2 linked regions of the Homo sapiens genome follow. The protein of the gene in region 2 interacts with the protein of the main gene of each other region in a pairwise test. Each region holds a gene or a part of one and is shown on either strand. Other genes may lie near its edges.

Evidence for each region.
Region 1: the proteins of PDE6D (region 2) and RAB18 interact in a two-hybrid assay, tested with the Homo sapiens proteins (one large-scale study listed by BioGRID and IntAct).

The regions. Positions count from the first base shown.
Region 1 is NC_000010.11:27,510,493-27,514,313, reverse strand, and holds part of RAB18 (ras-related protein Rab-18), read right to left. Parts: intron 1-3,821. UniProt on the Homo sapiens protein: The small GTPases Rab are key regulators of intracellular membrane trafficking, from the formation of transport vesicles to their fusion with membranes.
Region 2 is NC_000002.12:231,736,187-231,740,007, forward strand, and holds part of PDE6D (retinal rod rhodopsin-sensitive cGMP 3',5'-cyclic phosphodiesterase subunit delta), read right to left. Parts: intron 3,017-3,821; coding exon of another isoform or gene 3,003-3,016; coding exon 2,914-3,002; intron 1,953-2,913; coding exon 1,827-1,952; intron 1,107-1,826; coding exon 1,001-1,106; intron 1-1,000. UniProt on the Homo sapiens protein: Promotes the release of prenylated target proteins from cellular membranes. Modulates the activity of prenylated or palmitoylated Ras family members by regulating their subcellular location.

The sequences.
Region 1 (3,821 bases), on a different chromosome or scaffold from region 2:
AATGTTTGATCACAATATTCATCTTCTTTATGGCAATATTTTAGGTTACTGTTCTTCATCTGTCCTTTGTTTTTCTGTTTCTTTCTTCCTTTTTTATTTCCAAACATTTGTGGCAGTCAAGCTTAATGAATTCCTTTTGATTATTCATCTCTGAAGAAGTGCTGGTTGTCCAGAACCTGATATTTGTAGGAGGTTTATGCAGAAGGCCAGAGTGCCTCCAGTTCTGGACTGACAACTTTTTCGTGATTCAGAGATTTACCTAAGAGACAGTTTAGCATTTTACTTCTCAACAGCCAATGCAGACAGGCAGTCTGGAGGTTTTTCACAATGCAGTCATCTCCTCCCCAACTGCTATAGAGATAGACACATATTACTTCCTGCAAAAATGGCTTGTTTATGTGACTCCTTGTTTGGCTTCATTTCCCCGACTTCTTAGAATTAAACCAGGTGCAGGAAAGCTCCTGCCTTGAGCTGAAGAAACCCACTTCACTTTTGTAAACAAGGGGTTTAGGTTTTATACCTCAGGGGGGCCTTGCAGTTTCATGGGTGTTTCTTGTTGTCTCTGAGCTCCACAGCCACGGCATCCTACCTACTTCTTCCCACATGCAGCCAGCCTGATGGCCACTGCTCCTGGCAACATTTCCACCTATTTTGTGGCTTGGGGTTTTTAACTGTCTTCTAGTTTAGTGGAATGCTGGGTTTGTGTGTCAGTTTTTCCCTCTCTTTGTTGTTTTTAGCTAATTGCCAAGAAAGAAGAATGCTAACTTTATAGTACCATCTGCAAATCCCAAATCCAACAATTATCTTAAAAGAGTATTTTATGCAAGACAGAAACTTAAGTGTCTCACTAAGTTACTAAAAGGTAACAATACACTTTCCTTACTACTATTTTACTGTGGGGTAAAATACCAATTTTCATAAAACACTAATTTTCACAAGGCCATTAAGTAATTGTTTTTATGTTTAAAACTCATGTGTGGGCTGGGCGTGGTGGCTCACACCTGTAATCCTAGCACTTTGGGAGGCTGAGGCGGGTGGATCACTTGAGGTCAGGAGTTCAAGACCAGCCTGGCCAATATAGTAAAACCCCATCTCTACTAAAAACATAAAAATTAGCAAGGCATGGTGGCACACACCTGCAATCCCAGCTTCTTGGGAGGCTGAGGCAGAAGAATCACTTGAACCTGGGAGGCGGAGATTGCAGTGAGCTGAGATCATGCACCACTGCACTCCGGCCTGGGCAACACAGCGAGACTCTTGTCTCCAAAAAAAAAAAAAAAATATATATATATATATATGTTATTACCTAAGGCTGAAAGTAATCTGATGCTTCAATGTAAAAGATATTTTGTTCAACATATTCAAGATCTAGGGCCTATTTGGGGAACAAATTACATATATTTTCACCAGCATACTATAATCTTAGTATTTGTCTTTGCAGAAGACAAAGCCTTTTTAGTAATAAAGACAACCCACGATTTGTCATGCCACAAGTCCCCAAATTCCATTTGGGTTTGTAATGAAGACAGTTAATATTATATGTATGTTCATTCCTTCAGTAAAATTTTAACTTTAGGCAAGTTTATTTTCCTGCCAGTTGCTACTGCTCTCCTCCTGGCTAGCCAATACCAATACGTACTCAGGCAGGTTCTGACCAAAATAAGGTTTTACTACTAAGTAATTTTTTATAGGAGTAAATAATACACCAGTATGGGCACAGTGGCTCACACCTATAATCTCAACACTTTGGGAGGCCCAAGGTGGGTGGATCACTTGAGGCCAGGAGTTCAAGACCAGACTGGCCAACATAGCAAAACCCATCTCTACTAAAAATACAAAAATTAGCCAGGTGTGGTGGTGCATGCCTGTAGTCCCAGCTACACAGGAGGCTGAGGCACCAGAATCACTTGAATGGGGAGGTGGAGGCTGCAGTGAGCCAAGGTTGTGCCACTTCACTCCAGCCTGGGCAACAGAGCAAGACTGTGTCTAAAAATAAATAAATAAAATTAAATAATAATAATTATTATTATAATACAACAAAGCCAAATTACAATGGATTTTGAATTCGTGTTTTAAATGATTCCCTTTCCTATGACACAAATAAGAGTAAATCTGTAAATCTTAATATCATGCAAAAGCTAAGTAATGCCTAATTTATTGAAAATTTAGAGGCACCATGAGTTCATATGAAGAAAAAGAAACAAACAAACATGAGCTCCTCCTGAGCTGGGCATGGTGGTACATGGCTGTAGTTCCAGCTACTTGGGAGGCTGAGGCAGGAGGATCACTTGAGCCCAGGAGTCTCAGGCCAGCCTGGGCAACACAGTGAGACACTGCCTCACAAAAAAAGAAAAAAAAAGAGCTCTTACTTACAGAATTCCAAACAAGATACATAGACAGAGTGATGGCATTTTAAAAAAATCCCCATTTGATAACCATCACAGTTGGAATGAAAAGATCATATACTGTCCTTATCACTTGTCACAGGCAAGAATTATCAATGGATGCTACAACAGGAGGGCAAAAAGTGTAAGAAGGAGGATACCTATACAGTCTCAATGTATCTCTCTACAAGAAATATATTAGTTATGAAGGGAAAAATAATAACTTCACTGACACTATGTTCTGAAAAACACTTCTGTGGAATTGCTGCCAAAACTGCATAACCTGAATCTAACCGTTAAGGACATACTGGACATACACAAATTGAGAGACATTCTACAAAATAATTATTTACTCTTCAAAAATGTCAAGGCCCTGAAAAGGCAAATAAAGACTGAAGAATTGCTGATTAAAAGAGGCTGAAGAGGCTCGACGCGGTGGCTCACACCTGCAATCCCAGTACTTTGGGAGGCCGAGGTGGGTAGATCACTTGAGGTCAGGAGCTCAAGACCAGCCTGGCCAACATGGTAAACCCCGTCTCTATCAAAAATACAAAAAAAAATTAGCCAGGCGCAGTGGCATGTGCCTGTAGTCCCAGCTACTTGGGTGGCTGAGGCAGGAGGATCACTTGAACCTGAAAAGTGGAGGTTGCACTGAGCTGAGTTGGTGCCACTGCACTCAGCCTGAGCGACAGAGCTAGACTCTGTCTCGAAAATAAATTAATTCATTAATTAAATGAAATAAAAGAGGCTAAAGAGAAATAACTAAAATCAGTGTATGATCCTGGACCCGAAACAATTATTTGTCTTTTGCTATATGGGACATTAATGGGACAACTGATAAAATCTGTGTATAGACAATAAAATGTATCTATGTTCATTTAAGAAATACACATTAAAGTATGCAGACGTTGAAGACATCATGTCTACAATCTACTCTCATTTTTTTAAAAAAGAATACTGTGTGTAGAGAGAGAATGATAAAGCAAATGTGACAAACATTAACATCTGGAGTAATTTAATAGGATACATAAGAATTATTTGTGCTATTTTTACAAATCTTTGAGTCTGAAATTGTTTCACAATAAAATTTTAAAAATAGACATACAATCAATGAAAACAAATAAAGCCAGTTAACAGAAACTCTTTATTTTCCCTAACAATAATGCTAGGATCATCTTTACTATATTCTCCTCATCAGATCATGAAATTTTAACAAAACCTCCCAATTTACAGATGAAGTTAGTAAGTTAAGTGACTTCATCAAGATTACATGTAATTCAAGGCAAAGTCAACCAAGACTATTATCTAGCTCTGACTCAGCTCAGCTACCTTTCAACTATTCCAAGTGGTCTCTTCATCCCTTTACGTTGTCTGCAGTCTAAACACATGATACCAAAATACTTACCTCTATCTTCTCATATATTCTCATAAGTTAGT
Region 2 (3,821 bases):
TAAACAAAACCCAAAACAAAAACAAAAAACCTTAAAGTCAATAACCTCAATTTTTAACAAATTCAATATGGCTTTCATAAAGGAACTGTTGAAAGAGATGATCCAATATTACACAATTATCTGTGGGACTAACTCTTTTTTTTTTGAAATAGAGTCTTGGTCTGCTACCCAGGCTGGAATGCAGTGACATGATCTTGGCTCATTGTAACCTCCACCTCCTGGGTTCAAGCAATTCTCCTATCTCAGCTTCTTGAGTAGCTGGGATTACAGGTGTGTGCCATTACGCCCAGCTAACTCTTTAGAAGGTACTATTACTATAACATTTGAGAGACTAACATCTTTCCCACAGACAATGGGAGGTAGGAAGTTATTGACAGTGTTTTTGGAAAAAGCACAAACAAATTGTTCTTGGAACAGGAACCAAAGCTATTAATATGGTAAGCCATTCTCCAAAAAACTGTAACCAAGTAGTATCCTCGAAAACAGAATTATTAATAGGACTTTGCCAGATTCTGTTAAAGGTGATCTAAACAAAATACAGAGATACCGGAAGTACGGTAGTCAGGAATGGGAGCAAATTAACATAGATTCGGTATATATATTAAATGCCAGTCTCCTTCCATGTCATCACATTTTATCTTCATTACACCTCTGTAAGACAGAATTAATTTCTGTGTTTAGAGATGAAAGACTAAGGCTCAGAGAGATAAAGTATATTAGTGCCCAAGATGACACAGGTAGTCAGGGTGAATCAGGAATTTAAATCTGGTTTAATCTAAAGTTTTATTTTTATTTTTAGTTTTTTATTCTTTCTACTCTATCATACTGTCTTTTTCATATGAAAAAGGTCAGGAACCTGGAAACCTAGATACCCTTGGATACTCTTTTACTCTATTTCTCAACCGAGCTCTCTGCCCACTGAATGGCACCAGGAGTCCCACCTGCCTGGAATGCCTGTTTCTAGACACACTTCATAATTTCCTGAGACCTGCTCACTCACGTTAAGACGCTTGCTGGCATCATCTGGGACTCGGGTGCTGCCTCTATCAAGGACTGCCAGGTATTTGTGGAGTTAGGGATCACAAAGCCAAACTCGAAGAACCATTCTGAAGGAAGAAGGAAAAGCCGGGGTGAGCAGGTGCCCCAGTATAAAGTTTAAGGGCTCTTTGTCTCCCTCTCTAGAGTGAGCCTCTTCCTACCCTGAGAACCACCAAAGGAAGCTATCAGCAACCTCTCAGACCAGGGGCGTAAAAAAGACAGGGAAGCCTGCTCAGGTTGTCCTCTGAACCACACCAAAGGCTTGCTTCTCATGCTTTGAGGTCTAAAGGACTAGGACCAGCGAGCAGGACACAATATAAGCAGCATTTTCTTAGAGGTAGGCTAGATGTGAACTATATATAGATACATAGTTAAATTCACTTGGAATTAGCTTGAAGGGGCTTATGTGCCCTTTACACTGCATGGTGAGAATTCAATGCAGAGTGGCCTTGCCAGTCAAATCTGTATGATACTGTATGTAGAGCACTGTACTAGGCCCTGCTCATAGCAGCTTCCTCCATGATCATATCACAATACAACGTCAGTGCCTAAACCAGGCACCACCATCCACGCTCCCAGTGTCAGAGACCTCAAAGCCCCTTGTAGTGGCTAGCTTTGTTTTGGTTTGTTTCACTGGGGATTCACAGTCTTGCAGAGTGTAGGAATCCTACCACAAACTGAGTTGTAAAAGGAATGTTATCAAAGCACTGCTTTAGTTCACTGGGTATTGTTGCCTTTTGTCCTGGTCGCCCTAAGCCCTGATTTCAGGCATGTAGGCAGCAGAATACCTTCTAGGCATTGCCCTTTGAAGTAAACTTTTTGTTCCAGGCGGAATTTTTCCATTTGTTCTGTCGAAGAAAAATTAAGTTCTCGAGACACTGCCTTGCACTTGAGGATTTTCTTGGGAACACGGGCTGGTAAGAGAAAAACAAATGTTGAAGCCTTTCTAAATGAAAACCACAGGACTATGATGCTTCAAATTTCTGGGAGCTTCTTACAGCTGATTTAGAGAACACTTTCTTACAGCTGATTTAGAGAACACTTTCTTACATTTTGGATAATGCCTTGGTAAGTGCATTACACTTTGTGTGGCTGAAAGCAGAGGTCTCTAATTGGTCACCCGTATCTGAAAGATATTAGATCTTCAAGGAACACCAGGTTTTGTGCATCTAAGGGCCTCATCTAACTACTCTCATCAGGAAGGGGGCTGCATGGGTACCTTCTCTCTACTCTGTTCTGGTGATTTTAACCCCTTCCTTCTTCTTTACTTCAGGGAGATAAAAATGCAAATTTTCTTTTGGAGAAAAAGTTGAGATCTTAGTTTCTATCTTTGGGTATGTTCTAATGGTAAAATATCAGCACAAAATGGGTTTTGGGAAGTGAGAGAAAGAACTGTTAAGAAAGTAACTGGCTGGGCGTGGTGGCTCACACCTGTAATCCCAGCACTTTGGGAGGCTGAGGCGGGCAGATCACTTGATGTCCGGAGTTCGAGACCAGGATGGCCAACATGGTGAAACCCCATCTCTACTCAAAATACAAAAATTAGCCAGATGTGGTGGCGCACGCCTGTAGTCCCAGCTACTCGGGAGGCTGAGGCATGAAAATCGCTGGAACCTGGGAAGCAGAGGTTGCAGTGAGCCAAGATCACACCACTGCATTCCATCCAGCCTGGGTGATAGAGCAAGACTGTGTCTCAAAAAAAAAAAAAAAAAAAAAAAAAGAAAGTAACTGAAACTGTCAACAACACATGGATTAACATGCTGTGTCTTCAGGGGCTCACCCGCCTATTAGGTATGTGTTAACTTAGCTCTCTTATGCTCAGGTGCTAGTCTGGCATTGGTCACAGCCCTGTGTAGATAAAGGGTTGGAAAGTACCTTCATGCTCCACACCAGGGACAGACAGGTCTTCTGTTCCTTGCCAGAGTATCTTCCCTGTCTCAGCATCCCGAAGGTTCATCCAATTTCTGATCAAATATGACTAAGGAAAAATAAGGCACTGAAAGTGACTCCCACTTTGTATTCTAGGTGTCTCATGTTTACTCCCACCAACTCTTGTTTACTTTTTAAAAAGTTTGTCAAACTGCTCATTGCCATGGAAGCACATAAGAATGTGAGGAGAGTCAAAAAGACATCTAAAGGAAGAAGCAGAAACCTAGAGAAGTTACTTTTATCTATGAGAATCCTAAGACTGCACACACCTAGAGACTGCAAGAAAGGGACAGAAAACGAATAGTGCAAAATTTAAAATTTACCAACAGGATCTGACCAACCAAGATAAAATACCTAAAGAAACAAATATCAGATGTACCCCAAGGAAACAACTCATGAAGATCACTCTATAGTGAATGCCACAGTCCATAAACTTCACCCACAAGCACAGAACTCTCAAATTGCTTTGTAGTGGCCCCCTCTGTTTTTTTTTTTTGAAACAGAGTCTCACTCTGTCACACAGGCTGGAATGCAGTGGCACAATCTCGGCTCACTACAACCTTCATCTCCTTGGTTCAAGCAATTCTTGTGCCTCAGCCTCCTGAGTAGCTGGAATTATAGGAGCACGTCACCAAGCCCAGCTTATTTTTGTATTTTTAATAGAGATGGGGTTTCACCATGTTGGCCAGGCTGGTCTCGAACTCCTGACCTCAAGTGATCTGTCTGCCTCAGCCTCTGAGTGCCCTGTTTTTAAATATGAGAAGATAGCCAAGTATCAACAGAAATTTAAGAAAGCATTTATTATGAAAGACAGACCAAAACAAACTAAAAGAAAAAAGTAACTTAGAAGAATA